Regions from separate parts of the Homo sapiens genome. Here region 1 is linked to region 2. The links come from fine-mapping of genetic effects on gene expression. A gene starts in region 2. The other region holds a variant in brackets. All regions are shown on one strand. Distances are between the middles of the regions.

The links. PIP is the estimated chance that this variant, and not a neighbour inherited with it, causes the effect.
Region 1: its variant is the best candidate, but not a certain one, in a credible set for the expression of ARAP3 in whole blood (TOPMed, PIP 0.56).

What each region holds. Positions count from the first base shown.
Region 1 is chr5:141,656,308-141,660,307 of GRCh38, reverse strand. It overlaps ARAP3 (ArfGAP with RhoGAP domain, ankyrin repeat and PH domain 3), which reads left to right. Exons shown (of 33, transcript NM_022481.6): 22 at 382-529; 23 at 832-900; 24 at 1,655-1,729; 25 at 1,829-1,943; 26 at 3,462-3,590; 27 at 3,671-3,804. Among named protein-coding and RNA genes, the nearest start is that of FCHSD1, 6.9 kb to the right of the region's middle. RefSeq lists an enhancer at 1,247-2,446. The variant G/T (reference allele first, on the strand shown) is at 1,521.
Region 2 is chr5:141,680,497-141,684,988 of GRCh38, reverse strand. It overlaps ARAP3 (ArfGAP with RhoGAP domain, ankyrin repeat and PH domain 3), which reads left to right and starts at 2,759. Exons shown (of 33, transcript NM_022481.6): 1 at 2,759-2,816; 2 at 4,486-4,492. RefSeq lists a silencer at 2,710-2,759.

The DNA of each region.
Region 1 (4,000 bases), 24 kb after region 2:
TGTTAGCCAGGATGGTCTCGATCTCCTGACCTCGTGATCCGCCTGCCTCGGCCTCCCAAAGTGCTGGGATTACAAGCGTGAGCCACCGCGCCCGGCCCATGTATATATTTTCTATAGCTCCTTTCATGATGCAGCAACAGAGCTGAGAGTTAGAACAGAGACTGTCTGTCCTGCAAGCCTAAAATGTCTACTATCTGTCCCTTTACATAAAAAGTTTGCTGATTCTTGCCTTATCTGTCTCCCCTAGACTGGGAGCTCCTTGAGGCCAATATTATCTTACTGCTGTATTCCAAGCACTTAGCCCAGGCATACAATAGGGACTCAATAAGTGTTTGCTGAATGAGTGGCTACACTGATGAAGACCGTGGCACCCCTCTGCAGGGTGCAGAAATGTGCGGCTCTAAACCAGATGTGCACGCGGAACTTGGCTCTGCTGTTTGCACCCAGCGTGTTCCAGACGGATGGGCGAGGGGAGCACGAGGTGCGAGTGCTGCAAGAGCTCATTGATGGCTACATCTCTGTCTTTGATGTAAGGCTTTCCTGACCCCTAACCCACAACCCCTTTCCCCTACCCTTGCAGGACCCAGAGACTCTGGATCCTGATCACCCCAACAAGCCCCCAGCCCAGGCCTCTGGTGGCCAGCTATACCAGGAACTACCTCCCAGAGCCCTGGCCCTTCTTCTCCCACAACTTCACTTCCAACATCCTCACCCCCTTGGTTCTTAGCTCTTCTGGCCTCCAGCCCTCTTAAACAGGTCCTCCTTGGCCTTGAGATCTTCCCGGCAGATCCTCTTCCAGCACCCCAACACTCTCTTTTGGCTCTTTCACAGATCGATTCTGACCAGGTAGCTCAGATTGACTTGGAGGTCAGTCTTATCACCACCTGGAAGGACGTGCAGGTAACTCGTCCTGACCTTAGTCTCCTGAATGGGGCAGGAGGAGACATCAGGACAGGAAGCTGACTTTCTGCCCAGTTGAGGAAGTTTCCAGCCTGTCCTTCTGGACACTAGCACTCAGCTCTTTGGGAGACAGGGGGAACCCAATGAGAGAAGTGCTTTGGGGAGTGGGGTTTGGTTAGGGTTTGCTCCATTTGTTCCACCATGAGGATTCTTCCTGGTGATAATCTTGGCACTGGATAGTTGGTTTTGGTTTTCTGTGGGAACATCAAGTGAGACCATACTACTAAGTGTAAGAGATCCAAGGACGAGTTAGTAAAGTCAGACAAAGCAGTGAGAATAATAATAATAAATATAATAGCAAACATAGCTGAGGACTTACTATATTCCAAGCATCTCTAATCTCATGTTAGTATGATACAACTCCATGAAGTAGGTAATCTCATTTTTTTCAAATAAACGGGTTCAGCGGGTCATTTATTCAAGGTCACCCTGTAGCGAGTGGCAGAGAGACCAGGCAGTCTGACTCCACATCTGTCCTCCCAACCACTATGATGCCTTGGGAAGTACATGTGCAGCCTAAAGATGCAGTTCTGCCACTCCCAGAGGTCTCCCTTTTAAGA[G/T]CCTGAGTGACATTGGGGTTGGGAGGAGACCTTTGTTGGAAGAGTCACTTATGAGGCAACACGAGGAACCCTCTGACTTTGATGTCTTTTGCACCCTTTTTTTGCCCTTCTGACTTTTTTACCCCTCCCCTCAGCTGTCTCAGGCTGGAGACCTCATCATGGAAGTTTATATAGAGCAGCAGCTCCCAGACAACTGTGTCACCCTGAAGGTTGGTCCTGAGGGGACTGGAGGGGAAATAAGAGGATAGTGAGGTTCCAGGGGCAATAGCCTGACCAGCATGAATTCTCTGCTCTTGCCCTGACCCCAGGTGTCCCCAACCCTGACTGCTGAGGAGCTGACTAACCAGGTACTGGAGATGCGGGGGACAGCAGCTGGGATGGACTTGTGGGTGACTTTTGAGATTCGCGAGCATGGGGAGCTGGGTGAGTATGACCACGCCTGTGTGTTCATGCATGTGTATATGCGTGTGTGTGGTTGTGTGGTCAAGGTCATCAGTGACTTCATGTTACCAAATATGAATGGTAACTCATGGATGACTCATCCACTCATCCATGCGAGGGGACATTCAACACAGTTGACTCACTCCCTCTTTCTCAGTATTCTTCCATCTTGGCCTTAGTGACCCCCACAAGCTCGTAGTTTACCTTCTACCTTAAAGGGAGCTTCTCTTCCTCTTTTGCCCAGACTCCAAATGTTGGAGAGACCCACGGCTCAATCCTAGGCCCTTTTCTCTCATCTATCTACATTTCTCCTTGGATGAATTAACCCATTCTCATGGTTTTAAATGCCATTAATAACCTGACACCCAAATTTGTATATCTGGCCCACATCTCTCCTCTCAGCTCCAGACTCACATATCCAAATGCCTACTCAACACCTCCACTTCTGACAAGCAACTCAAATGTAAAACATCTAAGACCAATTTAGATGATGTCTAGTCCCCTTTCCTCAAAAAAAAAGCCTAGGCCATTCTCCAATTTTTCCCAACTCAGTAAATGGTACCACAATTCACCCAGTGATTAAGGCCAGAAACCTGGGAGTCCTCTGGGACTCCTCCCTTTGTGTCATCTTCATACACAACTCACCAACTAGTCTTGTCGATTCCATTAGAATCAATCACTTCTCTCCATCTCCACTGCTACCACCATCCTAGTTGAAGTCATCATTATGTTTTTGTCTGTCAACAGTAACCACTAAAATGTGTGGCCCCAGAAAGGGGATAGCTGGACAATGTTCCATGCTTGCCTCCCTACAATCCATTTTCCATGCAGCAGCCAAGTGAATATTTCAAGCATAAATCAGCTCATATCCTTCCTATGGTTAAAACCCTTCAGTGGCTTCCCATTGAACTTAAAGTATCATTCCAGTCCCTTACCATGGCCCACATGGCCTTGAATGTCTGACCCCTGCGTCCTCCATGCCTCATCTCACATCACCTGTTCTCGTATCTATCCTCTTTGCTGTAGCTACATTGGCTGTTTAGTTCCCCAAATACATCTTTCCTGATTGCCAGCCTTTGTTCTTGCATTTTGTCATGCTTGAAATCTTCTACCACCCAATCTTAGCATGGCTTGCTCTTCCTAATCCTTCAGATCTCTGAGTCTCATCTTCAAGTGCCACTTTTGAAAGGTCTTGCCTGACTACCCTATCTCAGTTGCTGTCCTGTTGCTTGCTCAGTTTATTGTTTCTTGCAAAGCAATTATTTGTCTGCAATTATTTTTTTGTCTGTACCCTCACTAGACTGTGTGCTTTGTGAAGGGAGGCCATGTGTATCATGCTCACCACCGTATCCCAGGGCCAGCACAGTTCCTGGCATAGAGACAGTGAAAAATAAATGTCTGTGGTTGGATAGTTGAATGGATGAATGAATGACTGGTGAGAGCTGGGGGCTTAGTATGGATATTCTGATTGATATATAAACCCTCACCTTTCCCCTTAAGAGCGGCCACTGCATCCCAAGGAAAAGGTCTTAGAGCAGGCTTTACAATGGTGCCAGCTCCCAGAGCCCTGCTCAGCTTCCCTGCTCTTGAAAAAAGTCCCCCTGGCCCAAGCTGGCTGCCTCTTCACAGGTGAGCCTCCTTCCTCTGCCCAGCATCCCCCAGGTCTCTCCCCTAGCATCCTCCACCCAGGATTGCCCATCTATGCCCAGGTATCCGACGTGAGAGCCCACGGGTGGGGCTGTTGCGGTGTCGTGAGGAGCCACCTCGCTTGCTGGGAAGCCGCTTCCAGGAGAGGTTCTTTCTGCTGCGTGGCCGCTGCCTGCTGCTGCTCAAGGAGAAGAAAGTGAGGCCCTGGGGCCAGAGGTGTGGGATGCTGGGTGGCCATGGAGAGGAGCCATGACTGCACCCACCCTCTGACTCCACAGCCCATACTCTCATCAATCTCATTGCTTCCCTGCCCCCGACTTCTGTGACCCTGTGACCACAGACCCCATTGCTTCCATGACGTCTTGACCTCATTAACCATGATCTCTCATCTC
Region 2 (4,492 bases):
ATTTCGGCCGGGCATGGTGGCTCACGCCTGTAATCCCAGCACTTTGGGAGGCTGAGGTGGATGGATCACCTGACAGGAGTTTGAGACCAGCCTGGCCAACATGGTGAAACCCTGTCTCTACTAAAATACAAAAATTAGCTGGGTGTAGTGGCAGGCACCTGTAATCCCAGCTACTCGGGAGGCTGAGGCACAAGGCTGAGGCACGAGAATTGCTTGAACTCAGGAAGACACAAGCCAGGGGCCAGAAGCCTCCACCTGCCCCATATCATTGAGCCAAAGAAGGGAAGTGGGGTCTGAGGGAGGAAGCCAGGTCTCCCTCTCTGTGGCTCTGCCCCATCATCTGGCATTGGTGTCCTTAACTTGGAGTCAGTGGACTTGGATGGGAAAAGAATATTACTTTCACTAATCTCTAGCTGAAATTTAACATTTCCTCCAATTATGACAATAGCAACAAACCAGTCATTTTAGCCATAACTATGGCTTTGTCACCAGTAGAAATCACATATATTTTTATATCATATTACAATATTGCAGATCTTTTGAAATACCATTTATGCTCATCACTGCATCAAAGTTATGTGAGGTATCAACCTACCACTAGATCTTATTTAAAGCATTAATAAAGAAGCACATATATTACTATATCACATCGGTTTTATATGTGTATTACAACATAATTGGTTTCCTTTGCAATCCTATATATTTTATTTTATGCATTTTAAAATATTATTCTGAGATGAGACCACATACTTTACCGTATTGCCAAAGGAGAACATGGCACAAAAAGGTTCAGAACTCTTGCATCTAGCCCCTGACCCAAACTCCCCGGCATCCATTCCTCAAAACTCCCTGTGCCCTTTACTGTCTTTTCCTGCTCCCTTATTTTGCTGGGTTAGTCTGAGTCCTTAAAGAAGAAGCTGCCAAGGCAGAATGCAAGGATTTGACTAGGGGAGATGCCTGTGAGAGAGGAAGGGAGCCTGGAGCTAGGAGAGCTGTGAAGGAGAGAGGGAAGGAATAAAGGTTGAGAGGAGCATCCTAAAACACCAGTCAAAGGAAAGTTCAGCAAAGCCATTGGGAAATCTTGATCCAAAGTCAGCTGTCAAAGGAGTCCCCTATCTCCCAGGAATGGGTCTGCCTTAGATCTCTGCTGAGCTCTGTCACTGGCTGGGAGCAGCCCAGTGGGAAGCTGGCCTTAGATTTCAGAGAGAAGCAGCTGGGGCCATTGGTTAATTTCACTCCTCACAGTGTAAGATCTGTGAGGAGCATTCTCACTGCCACCACAGTTGCCCATCTGAAAAAAAGGACATGGTGCAGGGGTCCTGTCCAGGGTGGTAGGTGAGCATGGTAGTTATAGATATAGACTTGGAGGGTTGGCTATTTTCTAGCTGCAGAGTCTTGAGCAAGTTATTTAATGCTCCCTGTCTCCTTATATGTAAAATAGAGGTGATAAAATTTCCTATTTGTAGGGATATTTGTGAGGATTAAAGTTTGCAAAGCAATGTTTACATAGATCCTGGAGCACGGTCAGCTCTCAATAATTGGTAGCCCTTATTATGGCTATTGCAATTATTATTTTATTACTATAATTCTCTTTCTCAAAGGGAAGGCCGGGAAAGTGGGGCTCCAGTAGGTTGAAGATGACAGTCCCTCCCCTAGCTGAGGCAGCTGGAAGAGGTGGGAACCACTTCCTCCCACTCCCCTCTTCTTCCCCTGAGGCAGGGGTCTTCCCCTAGCTACTGACAGTTCCTGTGTCTGCTGACTCACAGCCAACTTCCTCTCATACAAACAGGAAAACACAGCCGGCCAGCGCCCCCGCCACCCCCAACACATACACACACACACACACACACACACACACACACACACACACACACACACACACAAACACCCCCCCCCCACACCCAAACACTGGTCCTGCTCAGAGAGGGAAGTGCCTCCGCCCCTGGGAGACAGGCTCCAGGACCGGGGTTCCGGCAAGATTAGCGAAGGAGAGAAGGGCCATTCCTCTTCAGGCCTCCCCGGCATCCCCCCTGAAATTTTAGGGTGGGAGTTGGGGAGAAGGGGCGGCTTCTCCCATGAATGAAACAGCTGCTTGCTTGGTCACTGAGCTTGCAGGGCGTCCGCCTGTCCCAAAAAGGCAGCCCCAAACCTTGGTTTGGAAGTAGGGATGTGCCTTGCGGACCTTCATCCCTCGAAGGAACCTAGGCCGGGCCCTTGGGGATGGAAGTGGGGAGAAACAGACGGGTACCCCTCTGCTGGGCCTCTGCGCTTGTTGCCCAGGCCAAGTCTCAATTCTGGATGTCCAGCTTCCGTCCCCACACTAAACTGGTTGCCAGGGTCCAGCCACCCTTCCGGGCGTGGGAGAGGTGCCCTGGGGGATTAGGGCTCGACCTTTCCTCCTCCCTTTTGGCAGGACTGGAGGGCATGGGAGCAGCGGAGAGGATGCAAAGCCGTCCCTGGCACTCTCCCTTTCTCAGTTTCTACCTCCGTCCCAGTCTCCGTCCCGGTCTCTGCCTCTTTGTCCCTCTCCCTGAGGTTGTCTTCGTCCCAACGTGTTCTGGTCCTTTCTCGGCCTGCGAGAGGGCAGACTGGGGGCAGACTCGGAGATAAGCGCGGCGGTTGGGCAAGAAGCCCAAACCCTTTGGAGGCCTGCGCTTGCACAAGGAGTGGCCGGGGCCCCGCGGAGGGAACCGGCCGGGCGGGGCGGGGCTGGGCCCGTCGAGGGAGGGCAGAGGGGAGGCGGGGCCGGCGCGGCGGGACCCAGAACCTCGGACGAGCGGCGGGCACCCGCGAGCGGACGGCGGCCGCGTAGTGAGGTGAGGACCCCCGCGCCCCCCGGGTCCCTGCTTCCCAGACTCCTCCCCATCACCTTCTCGAGGGCCTTCGTGGGCTCCCAGGCCCCCTCGGCGCCGGCGGCCCTCCCCATCCCTGCCACGACCCGCCCCTCCCTCCTGCTGCCCGGCCTCTGCCCCATCCCTCCTCGCCCCCTCCCTCGTCGCAGCCTGCGCTGCCCGCCACTGCCCGCCCCGCCCCCGCCACTCCTGTCCCGCGAGCACCTCAGCTCCCAGCCCCGTGCTGTCGAGCCCGGCCTGAGTCACCGGGAAACCGGGCCCTGAGTCAGGGCCCGAGGCTCAGCACGCGGGCCCTGGCTTGGGAATGAGGCCCAGCTGGAGAGAGGCAGAGGGAGGCCAGCAGTGATGCTGGGACGGAGAGGGCGTCCTGGTCACCGACAGAGCACAAGAGTAACAGGGAGAGAGCCTAGGCCGAGGCGGAAGACAGAAACCCAGGCTCAGAGGCAGACAGAGACACAGATACAACTCAAGATCTGGTTAGAATTGTAGACTGAGTCAAGGACAAGCTTAATAACAGAGAGCAAAACAGGGTGGGACAAGGAGAGGGACAAAGAAGAATTGAGAGGTTGAGATGGAATGGGGCAGGGACAGTGACAAGGCAGAGATAAAACTCAGGGGCCACAGAATTAGAGACAGGTCTATGAAATAGACCAGGGTCAGGGTCGGGGTCAGGCTGGTGGAAGGGGGACAGAGCACAGAGACCTGAGCCCAAGGGAATGAGCAGGGAAAAGGCAAGCTCAGAAAAGGAAGGCTTGGAGAAAGCAGAGGTGGGGGGATGGCATTTCACACTGCCAAATCGCTACAGGGCATGTGCACACACAGGTGAACAGCATGTGAACATGCTGCCGGTGGGCAGAGAGTCCAGAAGCCTCTGGAGTACCCCTGACCAGAGGTCAGGCCTCATCTCTCTGGCATCCCCATCCTTATTCTTCAATTAGCCTCCACCCAGGGCCGGGACCCCACACATTAGGACTGGTTAGGGCTCTCCCGGCAGCCTGACCAAAGCAGGCAGGATGTGGAGGCGGCCAGGGCTGGAGGGACAGGAAGGAAGTCTGAGCAGAGACAATAGGTGGAAGGGGAGGAGGGACTGGGAACAACCAGGATTAGGACGGCAGGCCTGCATACATCGGCTCTGGAAACAAGAGGGAGGGGGCGTCTGCACCTCCTTCCTCCTATCTAGGCTGCCCCTCTCCCTACCTTACTCCAGAGCTGATTGGCCACATCATTGGCCCCTCCTCTGCATCTCCCTATCCCACTCTGACCCACAGCATTCTAGCATCTTGTCCCATGCTTACTCAGTTGGATGTGCAGTCAGGCAGGAGCAGAGCTTTGACCCAGACCCAGGGTGGGCAGGAACTGAGGGGCCAACTCTAGCACTGACTTACTGTGAACCTGGGGCAAGCCCCTTCCCCTCTCTGGGCCTCAGTTTCCTTAACTTCAAATGAAGTCCCTTCCCTAAGTAGAGAGCCATTGCTGTTGTTCTGGGATGGCTCTGCTTCCAGATCGCAGGCCTTTCAGCATCTTTCTTTGGAGGAAGATTGGAGGCTGGTGCTCACTGTCCAGGCCTCAGACTCTGGGGCAGAGAGGGGGATTCTCAGCCTGAGCCCTCCCTTCACCCTGCCCCTCCCCCCAGCAATGGC